4 linked regions of the Homo sapiens genome follow. Changing the gene in region 1 together with any one later gene gives a genetic interaction. Each region holds a gene or a part of one and is shown in the gene's direction. Other genes may lie near its edges. The genes, in order: MAP2K7, CDKN1A, CKM and AXL.

What was found.
Region 2: changes in MAP2K7 (region 1) and CDKN1A together harm fitness more than expected from each alone (negative genetic interaction), as found in Homo sapiens cells (one large-scale study listed by BioGRID).
Region 3: changes in MAP2K7 (region 1) and CKM together harm fitness more than expected from each alone (negative genetic interaction), as found in Homo sapiens cells (one large-scale study listed by BioGRID).
Region 4: changes in MAP2K7 (region 1) and AXL together harm fitness more than expected from each alone (negative genetic interaction), as found in Homo sapiens cells (one large-scale study listed by BioGRID).

The regions. Positions count from the first base shown.
Region 1 is NC_000019.10:7,904,792-7,913,150, forward strand, and holds part of MAP2K7 (dual specificity mitogen-activated protein kinase kinase 7), read left to right. Parts: intron 1-1,016; coding exon of another isoform or gene 1,017-1,064; intron 1,065-4,963; coding exon 4,964-5,105; intron 5,106-5,271; coding exon 5,272-5,338; intron 5,339-5,468; coding exon 5,469-5,582; intron 5,583-5,661; coding exon 5,662-5,781; intron 5,782-5,904; coding exon 5,905-6,012; intron 6,013-6,188; coding exon 6,189-6,368; intron 6,369-6,458; coding exon 6,459-6,539; intron 6,540-6,623; coding exon of another isoform or gene 6,624-6,644; coding exon 6,645-6,787; intron 6,788-7,357; coding exon 7,358-7,403; intron 7,404-7,505; coding exon 7,506-7,640; 3' UTR 7,641-8,359. UniProt on the Homo sapiens protein: Dual specificity protein kinase which acts as an essential component of the MAP kinase signal transduction pathway. Essential component of the stress-activated protein kinase/c-Jun N-terminal kinase (SAP/JNK) signaling pathway.
Region 2 is NC_000006.12:36,681,714-36,684,772, forward strand, and holds part of CDKN1A (cyclin-dependent kinase inhibitor 1), read left to right. Parts: intron 1-2,383; coding exon of another isoform or gene 2,384-2,388; coding exon 2,389-2,833; coding exon of another isoform or gene 2,834-2,932; intron 2,933-3,059. UniProt on the Homo sapiens protein: Plays an important role in controlling cell cycle progression and DNA damage-induced G2 arrest. Involved in p53/TP53 mediated inhibition of cellular proliferation in response to DNA damage.
Region 3 is NC_000019.10:45,314,531-45,322,889, reverse strand, and holds the start of CKM (creatine kinase M-type), read left to right. Parts: upstream 1-14; 5' UTR 15-69; intron 70-3,158; 5' UTR 3,159-3,176; coding exon 3,177-3,369; intron 3,370-4,910; coding exon 4,911-5,065; intron 5,066-7,292; coding exon 7,293-7,425; intron 7,426-8,359. UniProt on the Homo sapiens protein: Reversibly catalyzes the transfer of phosphate between ATP and various phosphogens (e.g. creatine phosphate).
Region 4 is NC_000019.10:41,250,750-41,259,108, forward strand, and holds part of AXL (tyrosine-protein kinase receptor UFO isoform 1 precursor), read left to right. Parts: intron 1-1,601; coding exon 1,602-1,694; intron 1,695-2,096; coding exon 2,097-2,218; intron 2,219-2,849; coding exon 2,850-2,959; intron 2,960-5,702; coding exon 5,703-5,862; intron 5,863-6,743; coding exon 6,744-6,880; intron 6,881-8,359. UniProt on the Homo sapiens protein: Receptor tyrosine kinase that transduces signals from the extracellular matrix into the cytoplasm by binding growth factor GAS6 and which is thus regulating many physiological processes including cell survival, cell proliferation, migration and differentiation.

The DNA.
Region 1 (8,359 bases):
GCACATCGACCCCCAGCCAGCCCGGTGACTTTGTCACCTGTGTTCAAGTGATGGCTCCCCTTCCCTTCACACCCACACCCACCTGACCTGGGGACACCTGGGGCCAGTGTGACTCTAGGCCTGCTCCCGCCGCGCCCCAGCATACATCCACCTGCTTTCTGATCAGTCCCACCACCTCGGTACCTACCTCCCTGACACCTTGTCATCCTAGATCAGTACCTCTCGCTTCACACACACCTGGCCTGGGAACACTGACCATATCTAGTCTCCCGGCTTTTTCCCCAAGATCCTGGTCTCTAAATCCTCTGGGCTGGAGGAAATTAGATTTTCAAACCCTGTGAACACCACCCCTGACCCATGATCCTTTTTGTGTCTTTCTTGACCCAGTAAAATTCTCTCTTGTCTCCTCTGATGTGACCTTCGTAGTTTATTTAGTTCTCTCTATGGAGTCATTATGGCAGGCGAGAAAGGTACCCCCGTATCTGGGCACCCCACCCATTCCCTGGTCACCCAGCCTGACCTTCACAGCCTGACACCCTCCTGTCCCTCCCTCTCCTGACCTGAGTCAGCGTGGGTTCCTCCTTGGGGAGTCTCTTGGGGGTCCAGAGAAATCATGGAGGTGGGGATTCTGGTGCAGGACACTGCCTGAGACAAGAAGCCCAGCCAAGACACGGGTCCCTGCTAGCCCCTGGGGGCCGCCCTCCCTGGCCCCTGAGTGGATGAGACAGGGTTGAGTCCAGGATCCCGGGTGCCTTCAGGGGTGGCCGTTCCCATGCAGAGCTAGGAGGCCGGTGGCAGGCAGGCCCCCGAGGAGTCCCCTCCAGGCGTCTCTGTCTGTGTCAACTCCATCCCATCCTCCCCGCCCTCCCCATCTCTGTCGGTTCCTAGCCATCTCTGCAGTTCGGTGCCTCCCCCTCCTCCTCGTTTATGATTTGATTTCTTTTCTTTTGGACGAATCAGTCGTTTCTGTTGTGATTTATCGTGGTGTTGTTTTTTTCTTCCTTTTCCCCATCCAGTTATTGTGATCACTCTAAGCCCTGCTCCTGCCCCGTCCCAACGAGCAGGTACCAGCCTTTTTATCATCGCTGCTTGGACATCTGCACCATTGACCTAACCGCTGCCCCGGCCGCAGAATGGCGTCCCCCAGCCCCCATGCTCTGTGTGTGTCCCCATGTCCCTTCCCCTCACTCTCACTTTCTCTCTCACTCCACTCAAGCAGCGGTCAGCCCAGCCCAGCCTCCTCTGCGTCCTCCCTCCTCCTCCCCCTCCCTTACTCCCAGCTCCACTTTGGACTCCCTGGAGGAGGAGGTGGGCTCCCCCACTGAATGGGAGTCTGTGGCCTCCGGGGGTGGGGGGGGTGCACGCCTGTGTGTGTGTAACTGAGAGAACGAGAAAGTTGGGCCTGGTGGGTGGGTGGCCTGTGCCTATGGATCTCTCTCAACAACTAGGTGAACACATAGCACCCCCCGGGTTCCATACCAGCCCTGGGCGCCAGGGACACAGCAGTGAATAGAACAGATGGAGCCCCTCTCCTCTGTAGCGGGGGGCTGCAATAGGGGGGCCCACTGGACAAGGAGCACATTCCCACCAGAGAGAACATTCTAGCTGGGTGAGCGGCCCTGCAGGGGGCCAGCCTGGGGGAACCTCTGGAGACGGTGGGAATTGAACAAAGCCTCTGGGGAGGCCAGGCACGGTGGCTCACACCTGTGATCCCAACACTCGGGGAGGTTGAGGCTACAGGGAGCCATGATCACACCACTGCACCCCAGCCTGGGTGACAGCGAGATCCTGTCTCAAAAATTTAAAAACTGGGCCAGGCGCAGTGGCTCATGCCTGTAATTTCAGTACTTTGGGAGGCCAAGGAGGGTGGATCACTTGAGGTCAGGAGTTCGAGACCAGCCTGGCCAACATGGTGAAACCCTGTCTGCATTAAAAATACTAGAGATTAGGCCAGGCACAGTGACTCACACCTGTAATTCCAGCACTTTGGGAGACCGAGGCGGGTGGCTCACCTGAGGTCGGGAGTTCGAGACCACCCTGACCAACATAGAGAAACCCCGTCTCCACTAAAAATACAAAATTAGCCGGGCATGGTGGCACATACCTGTAATCCCAGCTACTCGGGAGGCTGTAATCCTAGCTACTCGGGAGGCTGAGGCAGGAGAACCGCTTGAACCCGGGAGGCGGAGATTGCAGTGAGCTGAGATCGCACCATTGCACTTCAGCCTGGGCAACAAGAGCAAAACTCCATCTCAAAAAAAAAAAAAACATAAAAGATTAGGTGGAGGTTGCAGTGAGCTGAGATCGCGCCACTGCATTCCAGCCTGGGCAACAGAGCAAGACTCCGTCTCAAAAAAAAAAAAAATTTAAAAAGCGTCTTGAAGGAGTTGGGGGGGGAGAGAAGACAGGGCCGCCAGGGCTCTGAGCGCAGCGCCAGCCTGTGTGGGGCATGCAGGCTGTGCCCCACGCCTGTGTTGGGAGAGAGAGTAGATGGGGTGCCTGGCCCTGTGAGTGGTTGTGAGTATGTGTGTCCGAGGGCAAGGGGGACTCTGTCCCGGCTGCATGGGTGTTAGGTCCACGGCATGCCCCGGGTGTGTGTTGTGCGTGCGTGCACTTGCACGGCATGTGCGTGCATGTTGACATGGCAGCCGGTGCACCTGTGGCTCCTGTCGGCAGACACGTGCCCTCCAGCCTCTCGCTCTCTCTCATCCGTTCTCTTTCTCATCCTCACCCTCTTGCTCTCACTCCACCCTCCTGAGCTGCCATGTGGCCATCACCACCTCTGTGGCCTCTGTTCTCAGGGCCTTTGTGTACCTCCTTCCCCCAGTGCCTACCTGAACCCTCCCTTCCATCCCCCCATGCTCCAGTCTGTGGTCCGGCAGCCTCCTCCCCAGGCTCCGGGGCCACCCTCGGAAGGCCTGGTGGGCTCTGTCAGGGAAGGGGCCCACAGGACTCCTCGAGGGCTGTGGTCGTCAACCGCTGAGTGCAGGGTGTGAGCGGGACTCGGATACTCTCTGAGGGCGGGAACTAGGCAGTGTCTCAAGAGATGCCAGGTGCACAGGGGTTGGGGGCTGGGTTGGGGGGAGCACAGGCCCTCGGGAGCCAGAAGGGGACTGGGGCTGTGGCTCAGGCCATGGACAGAGCAGAGGCGCAGGGACCTGAAGAAGCAGAGGGAGAAGCCTGGCCAACATAGCGAGACCCCATCTCTACTCAAAAGACAAAAATTAGCTGGGTGTGGTGGCGTGTACCTATAATCCCAGCTACTCAGGAGGCTGAGGCAGGAGAATCACTTGAACCTGGGAGGGGGATGTTGCAGTGAGTTGAGATCACGCCACTGCACTCCAGCCTGGGTGACAGAGCGAGAACCTATCTCAAAAAAAAAAAAAAACAGTGGGAGGTGACGTGGTGCTGCAGAGGCGGCAGTGGCCAGGACAGCGGGAGGGGCACGGGAGGTGAGGCCTCTAGGCCAGTCATGAACGCTGGGCCTGGCTGTGTCCCAAGGTCCCCAGAGCCCTTCCCCTGCTCCTGCCTGGTCCTCCAGGAGGGGAGCTAGGGGGCACAGCTCCTGCAGGGGCTGGCAGGACCAGATAGGGGCAATGCTGGGCCTCCTGCATTGGGACTGAGGCGTCTTCCTGCCCCTCCTACTGGCTGAGATCAGGGTCCTGGGCACACGGGAGGGACGGGGTTTAGCTGCCAGCATGGAGCGGGTTTGTCTGTTCATATTAGTCCCTGGGCACCAGTCACCAGGAGCCTGCAGAACTGTGGGGAGAAAAGGTGGACGAGGCAGGAGGAAAAGAGGGGAGAGGGGCTTGTTGGCTGAGGGCTTTGGAGAGCGGCAGGCCCCAGCTCCTGTGGGAGGGGCACCTTGGTAGGTGTGTGTAGCCGTTGTCAGGGCCTCTAGGATGTGACGTGTCAGGATTGGCTCCTCTGGAGGCCACGTTAGCATCCCGGCCTCTGTTCCTGCACCCTGTTGCCAGCCCAGCCAGGGAGACCCTAGCTCCTCCGGGAAGCTGCCCTCCTGTCCCAGGCCCCTCTCTGGCCTGTCTCTGCAGCGCCTCCTCTGGGCACCTGGGCCCTAGTCTTGGTTCCTGTCTGTCTGTCTGTCTCCTGCCCTCCCACCCCTAATGCCGCCTGCCCACCCCAGGGTGCCTGCTGCCTGCCCGCCGCCTGCCCACCCGCTGTAGCATGCCCGAGCTGCCCGCATGCAGGCTGCTGGATGAGCCAACCCCCGCCTGGCCCAGCATTGGCCCCACCTGGTCCCGCCAGCCCCTGCAGGAGCTGTGCCCCCGAGCTCTCCTCCCAGAGGATGCAGGCCCCCTGAGGTCCTGTCCTGCCCCCATGGGCCCCAGCTCTGCAGGCCAGGCCAGGAGGCCCTCATGTCAGCCCACTGGCCCGAGGGGGGCCCTCCCTGACCCCGGAACAGAAGATAGGGCAAGGCAGCCTGAAGCCTGGGTCTCGTGCCCGCTGCCTCCCCAGCGTGGCCCTGCTCGCTCTTGTCTGGGAGCCAACTTCAGTGCTACCAGCAGAGCCACAGCCTGGGCCAGCCCTGGCAGGCACTCCGCCCTGGCCTATCCATCCTGTGGGTGCTGTGGCCCTGGGCCTGCTTCCTGGGCAGAAGTGGGAGGAAGTGCACACACCTGTCAGGGAGGCCCCCTGGCCGAGGGACACCTCAGGTCCCCATCTCGTTTCTCCGTCAGCGTAGACTTGGGGCTCCCTCTCCCCTGCTAGCCTCCTCCATCTCTTTCCAGGTCAGGGGATGAGACAAGGGACCCTGAGAACAGTCTGGGGTGGGAGGGAGACCCCAGCTCCTCCAGCCCAGCAGGGCAGGGGGCTGTGCCAGCCTAGCTCGGGAAACCCAGGAGGGGAAGGTGAGGGTCCCGACCCCTCCCTGGAGTGCCAGATGTGGAGCTGACACCAGCTGGGCGCTGACCCCCCTCCCTGCCACTGGTTCTCACCCCCCTAGCCCTGCAGCTCCCGCTGGCCAACGATGGGGGCAGCCGCTCGCCATCCTCAGAGAGCTCCCCGCAGCACCCCACGCCCCCCGCCCGGCCCCGCCACATGCTGGGGCTCCCGTCAACCCTGTTCACACCCCGCAGCATGGAGAGGTGAGCCAGGGGCCCAGCAGGGTTGGGTGGGAAGCAGCATTGAGGGGCCACCGTGCCAGCCCTGGGAGGAGGGTGGTTAAACCGGTGGGAACCCCGGTATGGGGGACTGGGGTGGCCAACCTAAGGTCAGGACCCACCTCCACCGGCACCTGCTCCATGTCCCCAGCATTGAGATTGACCAGAAGCTGCAGGAGATCATGAAGCAGACGGGCTACCTGACCATCGGGGGCCAGGTACCACCTTCACTGTGGCGGGGAGAGGGAGGAGGCCCAGCCAGGCTGGACCCATCCTGGGAGCGCCAGTGGGGGGCAGGGGGCGGTGGCAGAGGCCCCAGGGACCCTCCAACCCTCCCTCTCCTCCCAGCGCTACCAGGCAGAAATCAACGACCTGGAGAACTTGGGCGAGATGGGCAGCGGCACCTGCGGCCAGGTGTGGAAGATGCGCTTCCGGAAGACCGGCCACGTCATTGCCGTTAAGGTGAGCCTTGGCGGCTACCCCGGCTGCGCCCCACACCCCAGGCCGGTGCTGAGGCTCCCTCCTGTCCCTGCCTGTGCAGCAAATGCGGCGCTCCGGGAACAAGGAGGAGAACAAGCGCATCCTCATGGACCTGGATGTGGTGCTGAAGAGCCACGACTGCCCCTACATCGTGCAGTGCTTTGGGACGTTCATCACCAACGTGAGTACCTGGCCGCGCCCTGCAGCGTCTCCTCCTCCCTCACCCCTGCCCCTTCCTAGGGAGCAGAGCCTCTGGGGGGTGGGCCGGAAGACACAGCTCCCCCGGGTGCCCCTCTCCCTGCAGACGGACGTCTTCATCGCCATGGAGCTCATGGGCACCTGCGCTGAGAAGCTCAAGAAGCGGATGCAGGGCCCCATCCCCGAGCGCATTCTGGGCAAGATGACAGTGGCGGTGAGTGACCAGGCGGGGCTTGCACTGGGCAGGATGACAGAGGCGGTGAGTGACCAGGCGGGGCGTGCACTGGGCAAGATGACAGTGGCGGTGAGTGGCCAGGTGGGGCGTGCACCGGGCAGGTGGCCTTGGGTCTGTGCCCCCTGCCACATGCACCCCCCTCTGCGTGCCTGCAGATTGTGAAGGCGCTGTACTACCTGAAGGAGAAGCACGGTGTCATCCACCGCGACGTCAAGCCCTCCAACATCCTGCTGGACGAGCGGGGCCAGATCAAGCTCTGCGACTTCGGCATCAGCGGCCGCCTGGTGGACTCCAAAGCCAAGACGCGGAGCGCCGGCTGTGCCGCCTACATGGCAGTGAGTGGGGGCCCCCCAGCGGGGGAGGGGGTGGGGGCTGGGAGGCCGGCCCCAGCCTTGGAGATACGTCTTCTCCTCCCCCCCCTGCAGCCCGAGCGCATTGACCCCCCAGACCCCACCAAGCCGGACTATGACATCCGGGCCGACGTATGGAGCCTGGGCATCTCGTTGGTGAGTTGGGGCCCTCCCCTGTTCTCCAGCCAGGAGTGAGGGCTTCTGGGGGACTCGGAGGGAGGAGAACATAAACCTGTCCAGCCCTGCCCGTCTCCCTCCCAGGTGGAGCTGGCAACAGGACAGTTTCCCTACAAGAACTGCAAGACGGACTTTGAGGTCCTCACCAAAGTCCTACAGGAAGAGCCCCCGCTTCTGCCCGGACACATGGGCTTCTCGGGGGACTTCCAGTCCTTCGTCAAAGACTGGTGAGAACCTCCCTCCACTTGGGAGGTCAGGGACAGCCCGCTGCTCTGGGCAGCTGGGGAGGCAATGGCAGGAGGGGAATGGAGGCCGCACCCTGGGATGGGCGGATGCGACTGTGGGCGGGCTCCTGGCTGGCGGCTGCCACAGGAGCTGGAGCTGGTGCCCAGGGAGCCATGAGCTGGGTTTGGACCTAGCCTGAGGGGACAGCCAGCCCTGTGGCATTTGGCGGGGTGGCTGTTGGAGATTGTGAGCACGCTTCTGCAACAAGCACAGCTACAAGTTCAGGAGGGCCATGTTCGATTCTCTCAGGGGAGCCCCACCCACCTTTCTGGGGGACCTCAGCCAGCTCTGGCCCCCCAAGCCAGGCCCTTGCCACCTGGCCCTAGGCCAGGAGGCTCCGGGACTCACAGTTGCTCCCCGCTGTCAGCCGGGGTCCTGAGGACATCCACAGCTCCTTCCCCCACACACATCTTGGGGACCCCTGGCCCCTTGGGGAGGGCCTGAGCACAGGGGTGGGGCCGGCATCCCCTCCTCCCTCGTTCTCACATCTGTCTTCCCTTCTCTTGCTCTAGCCTTACTAAAGATCACAGGAAGAGACCAAAGTATAATAAGCTACTTGTGAGTACCTGAGCCCTCCCAGTCCCCGTCCTGTCCCTGCGGAGGCGCGAGGCCAGGAGGGAAGACCGTCTCCTCCTAAGCCCCACCCCCTCGGGCCCACAGGAACACAGCTTCATCAAGCGCTACGAGACGCTGGAGGTGGACGTGGCGTCCTGGTTCAAGGATGTCATGGCGAAGACTGAGTCACCGCGGACTAGCGGCGTCCTGAGCCAGCCCCACCTGCCCTTCTTCAGGTAGCTGCTTGGCGGCGGCCAGCCCCACAGGGGGCCAGGGGCATGGCCACAGGCCCCCCTCCCCACTTGGCCACCCAGCTGCCTGCCAGGGGAGACCTGGGACCTGGACGGCCACCTAGGACTGAGGACAGAGAGTGGGGGGTGCCCACCCACCCCCCCCGCCCCGGGCCTACCAAGCCCCCGCCCTTCCCACCCCGGGGTCAGCCGGCCGTGTGCGTCCCCCGACAGACACTGTGAACGGAAGACAGCAGGCCGCGATCAGAGTCGCTGTTCATTCAGCCGCAGCCTCTGGGCCGGGGCGGCCCCCAGGGGCCAGGAGAGAGCCCTGGAGTCCCGCAGCCACCATGCACGCTCCCAGCGTGCTGTGTCCTTCGCCACTCCCACGCGCCCGTTCCTCTTCCGTCGCCCTCTGTCCCCTGCTCTACCTCTCTGTCCTTGTCTGGCTCTCCCGTCACCCTCCCTGCCTCTGTCTCTCTTCTGGCCTGAGCCTGGGCCCAGCCACCTCCTGACGGGTCCCCTGGGTCTGCATAGGTCTCCCATGGCGCAATGAGTCAGTGGCCCCCAGCCAGGCAGTGTGGGCATTGCCACTGCGGCTGGACGGGGCTGCGCGCTCGCGCTCTCTCTCTCTCTCTCTCTCTCTCTTTGATCTCAGGGGGTCCTTTTTGGAGTTTATTGTATTTTATTGTACTTGGTGGGGTGTTTGGGGTGGGGGCGGAGGAGAGC
Region 2 (3,059 bases), on another chromosome or scaffold:
TCCCGAGTAGCTGGGACTACAGGTGCTGCCATCATGCCCGGCTAATTTTTTTTTGTATTTTTAGTAGAGACGGGGTTTCACCGTGTTAGCCAGGATGGTCTCAATCTCCTGACCTCGTGCTCCGCCCTCCTCGGCCTCCCAAAGTGCTGGGATTACAGGTGTGAGACACTGCACCCAACCACCCAGCTAATTTTTATTTATTTTTATTTTTAGTAGAGACAGGGTCTCAGCTAGTTGCCCAGGCTAGTCTTGGACCCTTGGGCTCAAATGATTCTCCCACCTCTGCCTCCCAGAGTATTAGGATTACAGGCATAAGCCACTGCCCCTGGCCTCCCCAAGTGATTGTGATGGGCCTCTCTGGTTAAGAAACCTCAAAATTAGAGAGGGAGTGGGGTTCAATACTACAGCACAGGACTCAGGGCAAACAGGCCTGGGTTCAGATCCTGGCTGTGCCACTTATGAACTGTGTGATGTTAGGCAAGTTACTTAACTTATCTGAGCCTTGGTTGCCTCTTCTGTAAAAAGGGAGCTAATAGATATCCACTTTTTAGGAGGATTGATATTTTTAAACTGCTTAGAACAGCCCCCAAACATAAAAATATATAAATAAATCCCAACTCATGCCTAGCAGAGGGTGGATAGAGGTTATTTGAGGGCTCTGTCCACTGTACTGGGTGACCCCTTTATGGGGCAGTGGCCTTTGGCCTTTTTAGCTGTATGACTCAGGGGCAAGTCTCATATCTCTTCCATCTCCTGCCCTTTAAACTTGGTGTGAAGTTACCAAGAGCCTCCTCTCCCAACCAGCTGGGACGTGAAACTGTGGGCTCCACTGATCACAAGCAGTGGGGTGAGGTGGGGTGGAGCAGATGTGGCATGTGTCCCGGGCTTCCTGCCTCATGAGGACTCAGCAGAGCTTTCACCCCCAGAAACTGCAAGTTGGGACTTGTCCCTAGGAAAATCCAGTTGCTGCCAAGGTCGTGCAGTCACTCAGCCCTGGAGTCAAGCCAGAGCAGGCAGGTAGGTGCCAGGGCTCCCTCATGGGCAAACTCACTCTCCGTTTTCCCTCTCCTGAAGGGGGAGGAGAGGAGCCAGGTAGACCAGCCACCTTTAATTTTCTTTTTGCCTGCAAAACGGTTTCCTTGGACACAGGCAACACGAGGCAGGGGCTGCCAGGTGTCTAGACTTCAGATCACCTGATGTGCCTGGCAGGATGTGGCTCAGCCTGGGAGAAATCATCCCTTGCGCTGCCCCGCCCGGCCCCTCCTTACCCCTAGGCCACCCGCCTGACGACATCCTTGGGAAAGGCCCTCAGCCTACAGCACCTGTCAGCTGCTGTCTGAAGGAGGTAGTTGGCAGGGGGAAGTGATAGGGGGGAGGCTCAGTAAAACTGAAGGCAGAGAGGAATAATCATACTTCTGTTTTCAATGCACTTCTCTATACGAAGTGCTGCTGGCACGTTACCTACATTAACTCAGTTAATTCTCATGTCTATCCTCTGAGACAGTCACTATTACTATCCCCATTTTATAGATGAGGAAACTAGAGCTCAGACAAGTTAAGTTGCTTGCCCAGGGTCACCTAGTAAAACCTGGACTCCAGCCCAGGTGATCTGGCTCCAGAGCCCTCCTGCTTAACCACCAGGATACAGCCTTTCATTCAGCTCTGTTCTGTCTGCCTTGCTGCATGGACTCTGTGATCAATTTCTTGAGTATGTGTCTGTAGCCATGCTCTTTAAACTTGTACATGGCCCCATTTATGGATGAGGAAACTGAGACCTAGAGACATTAAGTGGCTTTTTAAAGCTTACGTAGTAACTGGCAGAGCTAGGACCACAACCCGGGTGCTTTTTGCCCCAAAGTCCCGGGTACTTTTACTTGGCAGAGCAGGGTTACCCTACTTGGGGATCTGGGTCGGGGGACTTAGGAGGCTGGAGGAACTGTCAGACTGTTTCTTCTTTTGGGAATTGACCTTCTGGCCAGGGCTGCGATTAGGAAACTGCTGGACTCTGGCAATTCACACATATTTGGGGGGCATTCACACCCATGAGGGACACCTCTGGGGGGAAAACAAATTGATTTTAGCTGATAATACCTGGTGGCAAACAGGACCCTGGTCCTTGCTCTTGCAATAGACTTGCCTTTGTTGACATTAGCTTGCCCTTCAGTTGCCTGCTCTCCCAGTGACCTTGGTGTGCCAGGCTGGCTGAGCTCTGCTGGTGGGGGTCAGGCCTCCTGTGGGAAGGAAGCAGGAAGACCAGCTGGAAGGAGTGAGAGAGACCCTCTGGTAGGAAGACGTCACCTGAGGTGACACAGCAAAGCCCGGCCAGGTAACATAGTGTCTAATCTCCGCCGTGACCAGGGCCTTCCTTGTATCTCTGCTGCAGGCGCCATGTCAGAACCGGCTGGGGATGTCCGTCAGAACCCATGCGGCAGCAAGGCCTGCCGCCGCCTCTTCGGCCCAGTGGACAGCGAGCAGCTGAGCCGCGACTGTGATGCGCTAATGGCGGGCTGCATCCAGGAGGCCCGTGAGCGATGGAACTTCGACTTTGTCACCGAGACACCACTGGAGGGTGACTTCGCCTGGGAGCGTGTGCGGGGCCTTGGCCTGCCCAAGCTCTACCTTCCCACGGGGCCCCGGCGAGGCCGGGATGAGTTGGGAGGAGGCAGGCGGCCTGGCACCTCACCTGCTCTGCTGCAGGGGACAGCAGAGGAAGACCATGTGGACCTGTCACTGTCTTGTACCCTTGTGCCTCGCTCAGGGGAGCAGGCTGAAGGGTCCCCAGGTGGACCTGGAGACTCTCAGGGTCGAAAACGGCGGCAGACCAGCATGACAGGTGCGGACATGTGCACGGAAGGACTTTGTAAGGGACCAGGATTCTCAGAATCCATGGTCCAAGGGCTGACCTGTCTGGTCCTGGTCCAGCATGCTCCAGGTAGAAGGAAACAGGCCCAGAGAGGGGAAGCAACCTCCCTGAGGTCACACAGCAAGTAGGCAGCAAAGACCAACTAGCTAACATTTATTGGGAATGTTCATTATGCCAGGCCCTTTGCCAAGCTTCT
Region 3 (8,359 bases), about 37 Mb from region 1:
CTGGCCCTTCCTTTGGGTCAGTGTCACCTCCAGGATACAGACAGCCCCCCTTCAGCCCAGCCCAGCCAGGTACTGCACGGGGCGGGAATCTGGGTGGGGGCCAGAGTAGGGGATTTCTGTGGGTGCTAGAGGCTTGGCTTGGGAAAGGGTCTGTGTGTCACCCCTTGCTCCACCAACATCCTCCTATACAAAGGCAGGTCGGTGCGTGGGAAGGTTGACCCTTGTGTGTCTGGGAGGCCCCTCCATCTGTGAGGCTGCCTGAACCCCCCACTGGGACCTGTGATTTCTGCGGCACAAGTCTTGGGTTATGGGGAGGGATCCGAGATGAAAGGGGTCCTGACAGCTGCCAACTGTCACCCCCTGCAAGGGGCTGTTGAGCCAGGCCTGTGTTCATTACAGTTTGTCGCCAACACTGGCGCCACAAGCCGTGGGAGGTGTGTCTGTCGCCTAGCAGAGTCTGCAAGAGCAGGTGTCGCAGGCTTTCTTTGCGTTTGCTACTGTGTGGGTCCCTGTGACCTTGTTTCTGACTTAGTAGCGGACACATGAGTGTCCTGGGCATGTCCTTGAGTTTGGAAGTGTGACTGTGTGACTTAGTTTACAGTGTGATCTGGGGAGTCTGCGGTGGTGGGGGTGTGTGGCTCTGGGGCTTTCTGCTTATGTCTCTTGTGGGGGGGGTCACCACCCTGCCTCAGTGCCCTCTCCTGGGGTGTCCCTGGCAGGGATTAGGGGGGCATCCTCTGAAGGGAGGGGGTCTGGGCTGCCATCCCAGGATGTCCTTGAGCCCCGAGGCCTGGACCCGTGTCCTCCCAGCCACCCTGGCCCACCTGTCTTGGGCCTGCTGACTTGGTGCAAGCCGAGCCCCGGAATGTGGGGGTGGGGCGGGGCAGCAGCTGGGGGTGGGATGGCAGGCAGTTGCCAGATTCTAAAAATAACCACCCTGGACAGCAGCACCCAAGGTCTTTGGCGGGTCCCTGTTCCTCTTCCCTGGCTTCAGCTCACCGTGGTCCCAATCTCCCTCCCACAATCCCACCTGCTTCCCATCCCCGTCTCCCACCGCTGCTGGAGGCCCCTTCTCCTTTCTGGGTCCCTTCTCCTTTCTGGGTCCAGTGAATAAAATAATAATAACAGTAGGACCTGGCGCAGTGGCTCACACGCATAATCCCAGCATCTTGGGAGGCCGATGCTGGAGGATCACTTGAGGCCAGGAGTCCCAGACCAGCCTGGGCAACATAGTGAGACCCCATCTCTGCAAAAAAGTAGTAATAACAAATAACAATAATAGCAGCCACCAGGGTTCCAGGCTCCAACTCCATGCCAGGGCCTGTGCTCAGCCAACCTCATGGCCAAGCTCAGAGGATCCTGGCAATCCTACGGGGCAGGCTCAGTTCACAGGAGACAGAGGTCCAGAGAGGCCTAGTGACTGGCCTGGGGTCACACAGCAGGGAAATGGCATAGGTGGGATTTGAACCTGCCTCTGACGACCCAGAGGCTGAGCTTTTCTTCCCTTCTGAGCCCTGTGGGAGAACTGTCAGCAGGCAGAGGTGGGGGCAGCTACCCAGCCCTCCCCCGACCCAGCCCTTTGTCTTTGGATTGATAATCCAAGAACCTGCTCACATACTCCCAGCAGCACCCTCACCTCCACCTTCTCACCAGCTCCTCGCACGAACCTTTAAAATAACAACAACAGGCCAGGTGCCGTGACTCATGCCTGTAATCTCAGCACTTTGGGAGGCAGAGGTGGGCGGATCACTTGAGTTCAGGAGTTCAAGACCAGCCTGGCCAACATGGCGAAACCCCAACTCTACTAAAAATACCAAAAAAAAAAATAGCCAGGTGTGGCACACGCCTGTAGTTGCAGCTACTCAGGAGGCTGAAGCAGGATAGTTGCTTGAACCTGGGAGGTGGAGGTTGCAGTGAACTGAGATTATGCCACTGCACTCTAGCCTGGGCGACAGAGCGAGACTCTGTCTCAAACATAATAATAATAATAATAATAATAGCAGCTAAGTGAAATAATGCTTATTGTGTACCAGGCACTGTTCCGAGAGCTACACCTGTATTCACACATTTAATCTTTTCAACACTCCCATGCGGCAAGTGCTGTTAGGATCCTCATTTTCTAGATGAGTAAATTGAGGCACAGAGGTTAAGCAACTTGCCCCTGGCCACACAGCTGGTTGTAGGTAGCAGAGCTGGGAATCAAACCCTGGGCTGATTCCAGAACCTACACTCTTACCCACACAAAATATTTTTCCAGCCTCCGGGAGGGGCCCGTTTTCCACCTGGGGAAATTGAGTTTCCAGCAAGAATGACTAGTCCAGGCTCACCCAACTGGGATACGGCAGAGCCAGGCCCTTGATCTAAGACTCCGGATGCCTTCCTGCTGAGACACAGGGGCTCAGAGAGAGGATTTCTCTTGCTCCAAGTTACACAGCCTGCCTGACCCCAACGCCTTGCCCAGTTCTCTTGCTGCTGTCTGCAAGATGCGAGCTAGGCGGGGCACAGTGGCTCACGCCTGTAATCCCAGCACTTTGGGAGGCCGAGGCGGGTGGATCACTTGAGGCCAGGAGTTCGAGACCAGCCTGGCCAACCAGTAGAGATGGTGAAACCCCATCTCTAATAAAAATACAAAAAAATTAGCCAGGCATGGTGGTGTGCGCCTGTAATCCCAGCTACTCAGGAGGCTGAGACAGGAGAATCTCTTGAACCTGGGAGGTGGAGGCTGCAGTGAGCCGAGGTCTCGCCACTGCACTCCAACCTGGGTAACAGAGTGAGACTCCATCTCAAAAAAAAGAAGAAAAGGCCGGGTGCAGTGGCTCACGCCTGTAATCCCAGCACTTTGGGAGGCCGAGGCGGGCGGATCACAAGGTCAGGAGATCAAGACTATCCTGGCTAACATGGTGAAACCCCGTCTCTACTAAAAATACAAAAAATGAGCCGGCGTGGTGGCGGGCGCCTGTATTCCCAGCTACTCGGGAGGCTGAGGCGGGAGAATGGTGTGAACCCAGGAGGTGGAGCTTGCAGTGAGCCGAGATCGTGCCACTGCACTCCAGCCTGGGTGACAGAGCGAGACTCCGTCTCAAAAAAAAAAAAAGAAGAAGAAGAAGAAAAAAGATGCCAGCTAATCTTCAATCTTCCCCTCCTGCCCTGCCCATCAGGTCTCCTACACCGCCACCATGCCATTCGGTAACACCCACAACAAGTTCAAGCTGAATTACAAGCCTGAGGAGGAGTACCCCGACCTCAGCAAACATAACAACCACATGGCCAAGGTACTGACCCTTGAACTCTACAAGAAGCTGCGGGACAAGGAGACTCCATCTGGCTTCACTGTAGACGATGTCATCCAGACAGGAGTGGACAACCCAGGTGAGCCTCCCCAGTGGAGCACTGAAGGGGCTACATGGGGGCTCTGGAGGCTGCCGGCCATGCCCCAATCCCACCACCCTTGAAGGGGGGGGGGCCTCAGTTTTCTCATCTGTAAAATGGGGCTGTTGTGGGAATCAATGCATTAATATACATAAAGGCTTGGGACAGTGCGAGGTACTCAGCAAACCACGCAATAAACATGCACGAGAATAATGTGAGATCCCCAAGGAGGTCGGTTCACCTCCTGAACCTCAGTCTCCTCATCTGAAAAATGGGCGCCCACGTTGTGAAAACACAAGTCAATGGCTGTGCAGTGCTTAGAGTGGCACCTGGCACCAAGTGAGTGCTCAAGCTCTGACAGGGGGGCCAGGTGCAGTGGCTCATGCCTGTAATCCCAGCACTTTGGGAGGCCCAGGTGGGAGGATCACTTGAGGCCAGGAGTTTGAGACCAGCCTGAGCAACATAGCAAGACCCTGTCTCTACAAAAAATACAAAAAAATTAGCCAAGTGTGGTGATGAGGGCTTGTGGTCCAAGCTACTCAGGAGGCTGCGGTGGGAGGATCGCTTGAGCCTGGGAGGTGCAGGTTGCAGTAAGCCGAGATCGCGCCACTGTACTCCAGCCACAGAGTGAGACCCTGTCTCAAAAAAAAAAAAAAAGAATCTGACAGGGGATGTTATTAATGTTATGGTTGTTTCTCAAAGGACATTGCAAGGCGAAGAGAGCTGGGAGTGGAGGGGAGGCTCTAGTGCCCCTCACATCCAGCTCACTGTGTGATGCCGGGGAGAAGCCCCTCTCTCCTGGCCCCTGTTTTTCCACTGGGAAACAAGAGGGTCTTTCAAGTCTCTTACCCTCCTGACCCTCTGTGGTACGGTGGTAGCCTGAGATCCTAACATTTCAGGCTAAGATGTCATGACTTTGGGTGCTAATGTTTCCGAGGTGCTGATGCTTTTAGCACCATGTACCCTCTGAAGCTCCCCTTTCTCCTTTGACCCCGCCCCCAGCACTCTTTCTTCTCTCCCACCTTGACCCCTCCCAGCCACCTTGACCTCTCCCAGCCTTCCCTCCCAGTTCCCACCAGTCCTCAGTGTTCTCTCTTTTTTTTTTTTTCCTTTGGAGACAGAGTCTTGCTCTGTCACCCAGGCTGGAGTGCAGTGGTGTGATCTTGGCTCACTGCAACCTCCACTCCCTTGGTTCAAGCAATTCTCATGCCTCAGCCTCCTGAGTAGCTGGGATTACAGGTGTGTGCCCCACACCCAGCTAATTTTTGTATTTTTAGCAGAGATGGGGTTTCACCCTGTTGGCCAGGCTGGTCTCACACTCCTGACCTCAAGAGATTCACCCGCCTCACCCTCCCAAAGTGCTGGGATTGCAGGCATGAGCCACTGTGCCCAACCCTTATGATTCTCAATTCCCACCCAGAGGTATTGAATGTACCCGCCCCCATCCCGACACACATGTCCACACAGGCTCCACTGAGCCCACAAGCCCACGCCCTGTTTGCTGGGGACAAGCAGCTCTGACCTCACCCCCACCCCTCCAGGTCACCCCTTCATCATGACCGTGGGCTGCGTGGCTGGTGATGAGGAGTCCTACGAAGTTTTCAAGGAACTCTTTGACCCCATCATCTCGGATCGCCACGGGGGCTACAAACCCACTGACAAGCACAAGACTGACCTCAACCATGAAAACCTCAAGGTCGGTGTCTGCGCAGGAGGGGAGGGCCGAGGGGTGAGGAGGAGAGAGATCACAGGAGAAATGGGGGGAGACAGAGAAATACAGAGACAGAGAGAGACACAGAGGTGTGGAGAAGCAGAGAGATGGAAAGAGAGAGGGACATTGGGAGGCTGAGGCGAGCGTATCACTTGAGGTCAGGAGTTCAAGACCAGCCTGGCCAACATGGCAAAACTCTGTCTTTAAAAAAAAAAAAAAGGGCTGGGCACGGCGGTGGCTCACGCCTGTAATCCCAGCACTTTGGGAGGCCAAGGCGGGCAGATCACCTTAGATTGAGAGTTTGAGACCAGCCTGACCAACATGGTGAAACCCCGTCTCTACTAAAAATACAGAATTAGCTGGGTGTGGTGGCACATGCCTGTAATCCCAGCTACGTGGGAGGCTGAGGCAGGAGAATCGCTTGAACCTGGAAGGCAGAGGTTGTGGTGAGCAGAGATCGTGCCATTGCACTCCAGCCTGGGCAACAAGGGCGAAACTCGTCTCAAAAAATAAATAAATAAATAAATAAAATAAATTAGCTGGGCATGGTGGCGCGTGCCTGTAATCCCAGCTACTCAGGAGGTGGAGGCAGGAAAATCTCTTGAACCCAGGAGATGGAGGCTGCAGTGAGCTGAGATCATGCCACTGCACTCCAGCCTGGGTGACAGAGCAAGATTCTATCTCAGAAAATAAAAAAAGGAAAGAGAGAGGGACAGAGAGACACAGAGACAGCCAAGGAGACACAGACAACCAAGGAGACAGACAGACAAAGGAGAGGGAGAGGGAGAAGAAAGGCACAAAAGCATGTAGAAAAGGAAGAGGCATAGCCGGGCACAGTGGCTCACGCTTGTAATCCCAACACTTTGGGAGGCTGAGGTGGGCGGATCATAAGGTCAGGAGTTCGAGACCAGCCTGACCAACACGGTGAAACCCAGTCTCTATTAAAAATACAAAAATTAGCTAGGCATGCTGGTGTTCACCTATAATCCTAGCTATTCAGCCTGGGTGACAGAGCGAGACTCTGCCTAAAAAAAAAAGGGTGGGGGGAGAGGCAGAGACACAGAGGGAGACAGAAGGGAGCATCAGAGAAGGCAGGAGAGACAGGGAGAGAGAGACACACGCAGTTGCAGTCAGACACAGACAAGGAGAGTGGGAGAAAGGGAGACAGGAAGAGAAACAGAAATGGGCAGAAAGGCTGGGTGCAGTGGCTATACCTGTAATCCCAGCACTTATGGAGGCTGAGGTGTGAGGATCACGTGAAGCCAGGAGAGTTCACGACCAGCTTGGGCAACATAGCAAGAACCCGTCTCTGCCCAAAAAAAAGAAAAAAAAAAGCCTAAAAATTTAGCTAGGCATGGTGGCTCATGCCTGTAATCCCATCACGTTGGGAGGCTGAGGCAGGAGGACTGTTTGAGCCCAGGAGTTTGAGACCAGCCTGGGCAACATAGTGACACCCTGTCTCTATTTTTTTTTTTTTTTTGAGACAGAATCTCACTCTGTCACCCAGGTTGGAGTGCAGTGGCTCGATCTCAGCTCACGGAAACCCCTGATCCCCAGGTTCAAGTGATTCTCGTGCCTCAGCCTCCTGAGTAGCTGGGATTACAGGCGCGCACCACCACGCCCAGCTAATTTTTGTATTTTTAGTAGAAATGGGGTTTCACCATGTTGGCCAAGCTGGTTTCGAACTCCTGACCTCAGGTGATTGGCTCACCTCGGCTTCCCAAAGTGTTGGGATTACAGGTGTGAGCCACCGCGCCCAGCCCCTGTCTCTATTTATAAAAAATTTATTTTAAGTTAGCCGAACATGGTGGCATATACCTACCTGTTAGTCCCAGCTACTTGGGAGGCTGAGGCAGGGGAATTGCTTGAGCCCAGGAGTTTGAGGTTGCAGTGAGCTATGATGGCACCACTGCACTCCAGCCTGGGCGACAGAGAGAGACCCTGTCTCGAAGAAAAAAAAGGAAAAGAAATATACGAAGATGGGGAGAGAGAGGTATAAAGAAAAACAGAGATAGGAGAGGGGAGAGAGACAGAGAAGGGAGAGACAGAGCCCAGGTATGGGTGGCGGGGAGAGGCTCCACACACCCAATCAGTGAGGATGCAGAAGGCAAAGGAAGCAACAGGGAGACTGAGGGGAGCATCTGGGGGAGACCTGGGCTTGCTGGAGAGGGCGGAGGATCTGCCTGGTCCTGATCTCCCACCCGCTCTCCAGGGTGGAGACGACCTGGACCCTAACTACGTGCTCAGCAGCCGCGTCCGCACTGGCCGCAGCATCAAGGGCTACACGTTGCCCCCACACTGCTCCCGTGGCGAGCGCCGGGCGGTGGAGAAGCTCTCTGTGGAAGGTGAGCGCCCCTACCCCGTCCACTGCTGGGGTCACCCAGCCCTGGCTCTGTTCCTCCATGGGCAGGTCCTCGGGTCTCTTTGGGCCCCCGCTTTTCAAAGTAGGGGAAGAGCTTGGTAAATCGTGGGGGCTTGGGGAATGGCGCGGGCTGTCAGCATTACCTGCTGTGTTGGAGATTCAGGGATGCTGTCCAGACCCGACGGCCCCTGAGAAGACCTACGCAGACACCTGGCTGCCCCCAGCGTCCTGCCATCCGTTCATCCAGCACACATTTCCAGGGGTTCTTGCCCTGTGTGGGGAGATAGGGGTCCCTCACTGTTCTCACAGAGTGTTCAGCTGGTGGGGAGACAAGAGGAAATACAGAAACCCACAGATGAACAAGATAATTCAAAAGTGCCATGAAGCCAAGACATGGGTGTGGTGGAGAATGACCGAGGGGAGCCACCTCAGATAGGAGGAGTTGAGGCCGGGCACAGTGGCTCCCACAGCAGTGCGGGAGGCCTAGGAGGGAGGGTCGCTTGAGCCCAGGAGTTCAAGACCAGACTGGGCAATACAGCAAGACCCTGTCTCTACAAAAAAGACAAAAATGAGCCAGGAGTGGTGGCACACACCTGTCATCCCAGCTACTCAGGAGACTGAGGTGGGAGGATCACTTGAGCCCGGGAGGTTGAGGCTGCAGTGAATCGTGATTGTGCCACTGCACTCCAGCCAGGGTGACAGAGTGAGAACCTGCCTCAAAAACAAATAAAAAGAGGCCAGGCACAGTGGCTCACACCGTAATCCCAGCATTTTGGGAAGCTGAGGCAGGTGGATCATTTGAGGTCAGGAGTTTGAGACCAGCCTGGCCAACATGGTAAAACCCCATCTCTACTAAAAATACAAAAATCAGCTGGGTCTGGTGGCACACACCTGTAATCCCAGCGACTTGGGAGACT
Region 4 (8,359 bases), about 33 Mb from region 1:
TGTTTTTTGAGACAGAGTCTTGCTCGTTGCCCATGCTGGAGAGCAGTGGCAGGATCACAGCTCACTGTAGTCTCAACCTCTGAGGCTCAAGCGATCCTCCCCACTCAGCCTCCCACTGGTTATAGTCTTGGCCTGGGTCTGAATCTCAGCCGTGCAACCTTGGGCAAGTCATTTTGCCTCTGTGAGCCACAGTGTCCTGAACTGTTAAATGGGATGATACTTGTTTGGGTCCCCAGGGCAGGTAGGGAAGTGCTGGGAAGCAGCCTGGGCAGTTGTGAGCAGGTGGACCCTGGAGCCAGACTGCCCGGGTTTGAGATCTGCCTCTTCCACCTCCAAGCTGTGTGTTCCCTTAGGCAGACTCCTAACCTTTTTGTGCCTTGCTTTCTTCATCTTTAAAATAGAGATAGGCCAGGGACAGTGGCTCATGCCTGTAATCCCAGTGCTTTGGGAGGCCGAGGTGGGAGGATCACTTGAGGCTGGGAGTTTGAGACCAGCCTGGACAACATAGCAAGACTCCCTCTCAAAAAATTGGCTGGGCATGGTGGCTCACACTTGAAATCCTAGCACTTTGGGAGGCCAAGGCAGGCAGATCACTTGAGGTGGGGAGTTTGAGACCAGCCTGGCCAACATGGTGAAACCCCGTTTCTACTAAAAATACAAAAATTAGCTGGGCATGGTGGTGCATGCCTGTAATCCCAGCTACTCGGGAGGCTGAGGTACGAGAATCTCTTGAACTGGGGAGGCAGAGGTTGCAGTGAGCCAAGATTGCGCCATTGCACTCAAGCCTGGGGGACAAGGGCGAAACTCCATCTCAAAAAAAAAAAAAAAATTATCCGGGATGGTGGTGCGTGCCTGTGGTCCCAGCTACTCAGGAAGGCAAGCCTAGGAGTTCGAGCCTAACCTCCAGTGAGCTATGTTTGCTGTGATTGCATCCATCCTGGGTGACAGCGCAAGACCCTGTCTCAAAAAATAAAAATAAAAAACAAAAACAAAAACAAAACAAAACAAAACAAAAAACCAATAAAATGGGAATGATAATAGTAGCACCTGAGAAGATTAAATGAGTTAATATATATAAAGTTGGCCAAGCGCAGTGGCTGACGCCTGTAATCCTAGCACTTTGGGAGGCCGAGGCGGGCAGATCGTGAGGTCAGGAGATCGAAACCATCCTGGCTAACAAGGTGAAACCCCGTCTCTACTAAAAATACAAAAAATTAGCCGGGTGTGGTGGCACACGCCTGTAGTCCCAGCTACTCAGGAGGCTGAGGCAGGAGAATTGCTTGAACCCGAGAGGCGGAGGTTGCAGTGACCCGAGATCAAACCACTGCACTCCAGCCTGGACAACAGAGTGAGACTCCATCTAAAAAAAAAAAAAAAAAGAAAATATATATTTTATATATATATATATATTATATACACACACACAGACACACACACATACACATATCACATATAAAGTGCTGAGTATGGTGCCTGGTACTTACTAATCATGTTTGATGAAGATGAGTGATGATGATGATGATGATGATGATGGAGTGGAGGTGGAGGGAGAGTCCTCCCTCTCCTCCCCTCCTCCTCACGACCTTTCTCTCTCCCTCAAGTTGCCATCTGCACGAGGTCAGAGCTGGAGGATTTCCTGAGTGAAGCGGTCTGCATGAAGGAATTTGACCATCCCAACGTCATGAGGCTCATCGGTGAGAGAGGGGCAGATTCAAGGGGTCTACAAGCCCCATGGGGGCCATAGCAGAGGGAAGAGCCCTGCTTCTGGCCCTGGGAAGATCAAACTTCCAGGCTTCCTGCTCCCCGCTCCTTCAGGGTCAGCAGGCTTCCCCCTCCTAGTCTCCCTCAGCTTGGAATGTGACCTCTGATCATTCCCAGAAATAGCTGAGGTCCCCAGGAGGGCTCCGGAAACGTCCCTGGGAACTCTGCTGGAAACAGCTTCTCTGCAGCTTGGTCCTTGCCACTGCCACTACCCCCAAACAATATGGTGGCCAGATTGGATGGGTAGTGAGAAGGAGAGGCTGGAGGCTGGCTGGTGGGGGGCTTGGCTTCCCCTTCTGCCCAGCAGGAGTGACAGGGCTACCTGGGGGGCTCAGGTGTCTGTTTCCAGGGTTCTGAACGAGAGAGCTTCCCAGCACCTGTGGTCATCTTACCTTTCATGAAACATGGAGACCTACACAGCTTCCTCCTCTATTCCCGGCTCGGGGACCAGCCAGTGGTAAGGGGCGTTTAATCATTCAGTCTACAAATATTAACTGAGCATCTATCAGGTACCCAGTGCTGCTCAGACCCTGGGAAGACCACGGTGACCAGGAGCTTGCTCTCCTGGAGCATTTCTTCCAGCAGGGGAGGGGCGGATGATAAACAAGCTAATAAATACCTAAGCGAGATGATTTAAATGTTTAAGTGCTAGGAAGGAAATACAGTAGGATGGAAGATAAGGAGGCCAGGCAGTGAATTTGGGTGGACGTGGAAGATCTTGCCGAGGAGGTGACCGTGAAGGAGTTGGGGCTGGGGAGATGTCTGGAGATCTGGGCAGGAAGCGACCCCAACAGAGCGCACAGCATAGGCAAAGGCTCGGAGGTGGGAATGATCATCGTTTGTCTGAAGACCAGACAGGAGTCTGGTGGGAGTGTCAGTCAAGGGCAAGAACATAGGCAATCAAGTCCAAGAGGAAGGCTGGAGCAAGTTTATAGGACCTTGCAGGCCATGGAGAGGGGTTGGGTTGAATTGTCAGGGCCATGGGAAACCACTGCGGGCAGAGCTAGGCTTGCACAGAGGGATGGAGGGAGGAGGGATCGCATCAAGGACTCTGTTGACCTCTCCTCCCACCTGCCTTGGCTCCCCAGTACCTGCCCACTCAGATGCTAGTGAAGTTCATGGCAGACATCGCCAGTGGCATGGAGTATCTGAGTACCAAGAGATTCATACACCGGGACCTGGCGGCCAGGAACTGCATGTGAGTGCCTTTCAGGGACCCCCCCCCCCCAACTGCTCCTGCACTCCCTGAGGGAGTTCCCTCCCTCCTTCTTAGGATGGAAGCAGGGCTAGACACCCGCTGAGGGCAGGTCAGAACTCAGGACCAGGAAAGTCAGTAAGGGGGTCTGGGAAGGCTTCCTGGAGGAGGTGAGTCCTGAACTGAGATCTGGAAGGAGCATTTGGATGCGGAGAGGGAAGAGACCAGAAGGTGGGCTCAGTGCACAGCATGAGGTGAGCAAAGGGGCTGAGGTGACCGATGGGGGTGGGGACACGTGAGCTGCATCTCTGTCCCACTCCATGCTGGGTGTCTTGCCTGGGGCTGCCCTTTGGAAGCGGCCACACTGGATAAGAAAATCAAACTCCCCACCAATGGACAAGCAGAAAATATGCCAGATGGGGTGCAGTGGCTCACGCCTGTAATCCCAGCACTTTGGGAGTCCGAGGCGGGTGGATCACTTGAGGCCAGGAGTTCGAGACCAGCCTTGGTGAAACCCCCTGTCTACTAAAAGTACAAAATTCAGCCTGGTGCGGTGGTGTGCGCCTGTAATCCCAACACGAGAATTGCTTGAACCCAGGAGGCGGAGGTTGCAATGAGCCGAGATCGCATCACTGCACTCCAGCCTGGGCGACAGAGCAAGACTCTGTCTCAAAAAAAAAAAAAAAAAGAAAGAAAGAAAGAAAGAAAGAAAAAAGAAAATAGTAACCTGTAGTCCCAGCCATTCCCAAGGCTTAGGTGAGAGGATTGCTTGAGCCTCGAGACCAGCCTGGGTAACAACAACGAGACACCATCTCAAAAAAAAAGAAAAAAAGAAAAGAAAGAACAAAAAATCCCCCAAAAGCCAGAATAGAGGGTAAGGGGAGGGTAGAAGGTGGAGGGAATGGAACCACAGAGTTAGAATATTAGTCTTGGCCAGGCGCAGTGGCTCACATCTATAATCCCAGCCCTTTGGGAGGCTGAGGCAGGAGGATCACTTGTACCCAGGAGTTCAAGACCAGCCTGGGCAACATAGTGAATCCTGTCTTTACAAAAAATAAATTAGCTGGGCATGGTGGTGTATACCTGTGGTTCCAGCTACTTGGGAGGCTGAGGTGGAAGGATTGCTAGAGCCCAGGAGGTTGAGGCTGAAGTCAGCCATGATGGTATCACTTCACTACTGCCTGGGCAACAGGGCAAGATCCCATCTAAAAAAAAATTGATGTATATTTTACATACACTAAAATATACACATGCAGCTCAGCTCGATGAATTTTTATGGGTATAGACCCATGTAACCACTAGATGAAGGTAAAGAATATTTCTTAGCCCCAGCAGGCTCCTTCATGCCTCTTCGTCTTCCCAATCACTACCGCCAAGTGGTACCCACTATCCTGACTTCTCAGTGCTAGTTTAGCCTGTTCTGAAAAGTCATACAAATGGGATCATGCAGTTTGTACTGCTTTGTGTCTGGCTTCTATGGCTCAGCATGATGTTTTTGAGATGGATCTGTGTAGGGGTAGTTTGCTCTTTTTCTTTGCTGTGTGGTATGGTATTCCATCATATGAATGTCCTGTGGATTTTCTTTTCTTTTTTTCTCTTTCTTTCTTTTTCTTTCTTTTCTTTCTTTTTCTCTCTGTCCTTTCTTCTTTCTTTTCTTTCTCTTTCTCTCTCTTTATCTCCTTCCTTCCTTCCTTCCCTCCCTCCCTCTCTCTTTCCCTTTCTTTCCCTTTTTTTCTTTCTTTTCTTTTTTGTTTTGACAGAGTCTTACTCTGTCCTTTAGGGTGGGGTGCAGTGGCATGATCATAGCTCACTGTAGCCTCCAACTCCTGGCTCAAGCTATCCTTCTGCCTCAGCCTCCTAAGTAGCTGGAACTACAGACATGTGCCACCATGTCCAGCTAATTTTTAAATTTTTTTGTAGAGACAGGGTCTTGCTTTGTTTTCCAGGCTGGTCTTGAACTCCTAGCCTCAAGTGATCCTCCCACCTTGGCCTCCCAAGGTGCTGAAATTACAGGCTTGAGCCACTGTGCCTGTTTTTTTTTTTGTTTGTTTTTGAGACGGAGTCTCACTCACTCTGTTGCCCAGGCTGGAGTGCAGTGGCGTGATCTCAGCTCACTGCAACCTCCGCCTACTGGGTTCAACTGATTCTCTTGCTTCAGCCTCCCAGGTAGCTGGGATTTCAGATGTGCACCAACACACCTGGCTAATTTTTGTACTTTTAGTAGAGACAGAGTTTCACCACATTGGCCAGGCTGGTCTCAAACTCCTGACCTCAAGTGATCCACCTGCCTTGGCCTCCCAGAGTGCTGGGATTACAGGCGCCAGCCACCATGCCCAGCCATGTTCTGTTTCTTAATCTGGGTGCTGGTTACATGGGTGTGTGTGTGTGTGTGTGTGAAAATTCAGTGAGCTGCTTACTTATGACTTGTGCACATTTCCATATGTACAGTATACTTCAAGAAAAAAAAATTTCATCAAGGAATCAAACCCAAGGAAGGACCTTAGAATCTAGCAAAGAGCCAAAATTGGGAAGTCCTGAGGAAGCCCTTTGTCCCATCCTCACTTGACAGAGTGAACAAGAAGTAAAGCAGTTCCCTTCTGGACTGGGATGAAGGTTTAGGAGACAGATCCCCACCCGCAGCCAGGACAGTGAGGGGAGGAGGTGCAGATGTGTCTGAGAGCCAGGGCAGGCTTCCTGGTGGAGGTGACTGATGCCCTGACCCTGTTCCTTTCCCCAATCCAAACAGGCTGAATGAGAACATGTCCGTGTGTGTGGCGGACTTCGGGCTCTCCAAGAAGATCTACAATGGGGACTACTACCGCCAGGGACGTATCGCCAAGATGCCAGTCAAGTGGATTGCCATTGAGAGTCTAGCTGACCGTGTCTACACCAGCAAGAGCGATGTGGTAGGTGCACTCCCGCCAAGAGTGGGGAACCATGGGAGGGCATGGCCTGACCATCACACACTATGCCTGGGTGGCTGTGGATGCAAGGGTCACAGGGACATGTGGGCTTCCCTTTGCAGGGGCTTGTCCACATGGGCTGGGCATGTCTTGGGGTATGGTGGGCATCTCTGAATAGTGGTGTGTACATGCCCAGGATAAATACAGGCCCACGTGTGCATGGTAGCAATGTAGACAGTTTAGGTTAGAAGAAGCTGCAGTGATTATGCGTGCATGTGCGCACACTCATAGAATGTGGACAGCCAGGGTGTGCAGAGTGGCACATGAGCTCATGTGTCCATGAAGTGTGTATATGTGTGTGATGGTGAGCATGTGTATGCATCCACAAAAGTTACTTATTCATGTGTATACCCGTGTCAAGTATTTTTTATATATATATATTTTTCTTTTTTTGAGATGGAGTCTCGCACTGTCACCCAGGCTGCAGTGCAATGGCATGATCTCAGCTCACTGCAGACTCTGCCTCCCGGGTTCAAGCAATTCTCCTGCCTCAGTCTCCCGAGTAGCTGGGATTACAGGCGCCCACCACCATGCCTAGCTAATTTTTGTATTTTTAGTAGAGACGGGGTTTCACTATATTGGCCAGGCTGGTCTCAAACTCCTGACCTCAGGCAGTCCGCCCACCTCAGCCTCCCAAAGTGCTGGGATTACAGGCATCAGCCACCGCACCCGGCTAAAGTATTATGTTTCTATGAATACTTGTGATGCTCCCAGAGGATGGTTGTGAACATGTGTACATAAGTGTGGGTGTACCCATGAACCTGGGTATTGGTGCGGGTGATTCTGTGCAGGAGAGACTGTCTAATTCCCTCTGCCCCTCACAGTGGTCCTTCGGGGTGACAATGTGGGAGATTGCCACAAGAGGCCAAACCCCATATCCGGGCGTGGAGAACAGCGAGATTTATGACTATCTGCGCCAGGGAAATCGCCTGAAGCAGCCTGCGGACTGTCTGGATGGACTGTGAGGACCCTTAGGTCTCCCCCAACCCAGAATTCATTCCAAACCCCTGACTACCCCCAGATGGCCCTCACAGGTCCAGGACTCTCTATAACCCAGACAGAATCCCTGAGAATGCTGAGTGACCCACTTGCCCCTCACCAATGCTCTGAGTAGGGCCATCACTAACCAGTGGGGTGCAAATCAGCTAAAGGCACCCTTTCCTCCTTTGTCTGTGTGGGCTGAATCAGCCCCCTGGCTCCCCACCCCCAAGCCAGGTATCCTTGGGTAGTGAATAACAGCACAGTCTTACCTGGCGGCCCTGCCTTTGGGACATGCACTCCCAGAGACTTCTCATTCCAGACTCCTGAGCACACCATGCTTCCCCGACATGCTCCTCAACACCTGAGACTCTCTGCAAAACCCTTCAGTTTGTTTTATTGGCCTTCTCCAGACTCAGGTCTCCTCTGAGATATTTGCAGGATCCTTCAGGGAATGCTTACCAAACTTTGCAATATTGGAGTATGCGGAGAAGGCCGTGACATTTAGCTAGCACTTTGAGGGTAAAGAGAGGATGACTTTGGGTCAGGAGGAGACAGCCTGGGGCGTCAGACTCCTCAGTCCACCTTGGGTACTCCAAGAGCTGAGACGAGTAAAAATAACAGCTAACATTTTCATATAACTGACTAGAAGGCACTGTTTTAGGTGCCTGGCATGTGTCAAATCATTTGGTCCTTACCACAGCCATGTGATGTAGATAGGTATCATTATGATTCCCATTCTGCAGATAAGAAAACCCAGTCCTACAGGGAGGGTAATTTATTTTTATTTATTGACTTGAGTCTCGCTCTGTCGCCCAGGCTGGAGCACAATGGCTCCATCTCGGCTCACTGCAACCTCCCAGGTTCTAGCGATTCTCTTGCCTCAGCCTCCCAAGTAGCTGGGACTACAGGCGTGTGCCACCATGCCCAGCTAATTTTTTTTGTATTTTTAGTAGAGATGGGGTTTCACCACCTTAGCCAGGATGGTCTTGATATCGTGACCTCATGATCCACCCGTCCCAGCCTCCCAAAGTGCTGGGATTATAGGCATGAGCCTCCACGCCCAGTCTGGGAGGGTGATTTATTTGCCAAAGATTGCACAGCTGGTGTGTTTGTTATCTATATCCCCAAATCAAGTAGTTTAAAACAACAAACGTTTATTATCTCACACAATTTCTGAAAGTTGGATACTGGGAACAGCTTAGCAGGGTGATTTTGGTTCAGGATCTCTAATGAAGTTACAAAGATATCACTGGGGGCTGCAGTCATCTGAAGGTTGGGACTGGAGGATTGCTTTCAAGGTGGCTTACTCACATGGCTGTAGCAGGAGGCTTCAGTTCGTTGCCATGTGGACCCCTTTGTGGCACTGCTTGAGCTTACTCACAACATGGCAACCCAGGAGAAAGTGCGAGGAAGCCACATGCCTTTTATGACCTAGTCTCAGAAGTCACACACACCATCA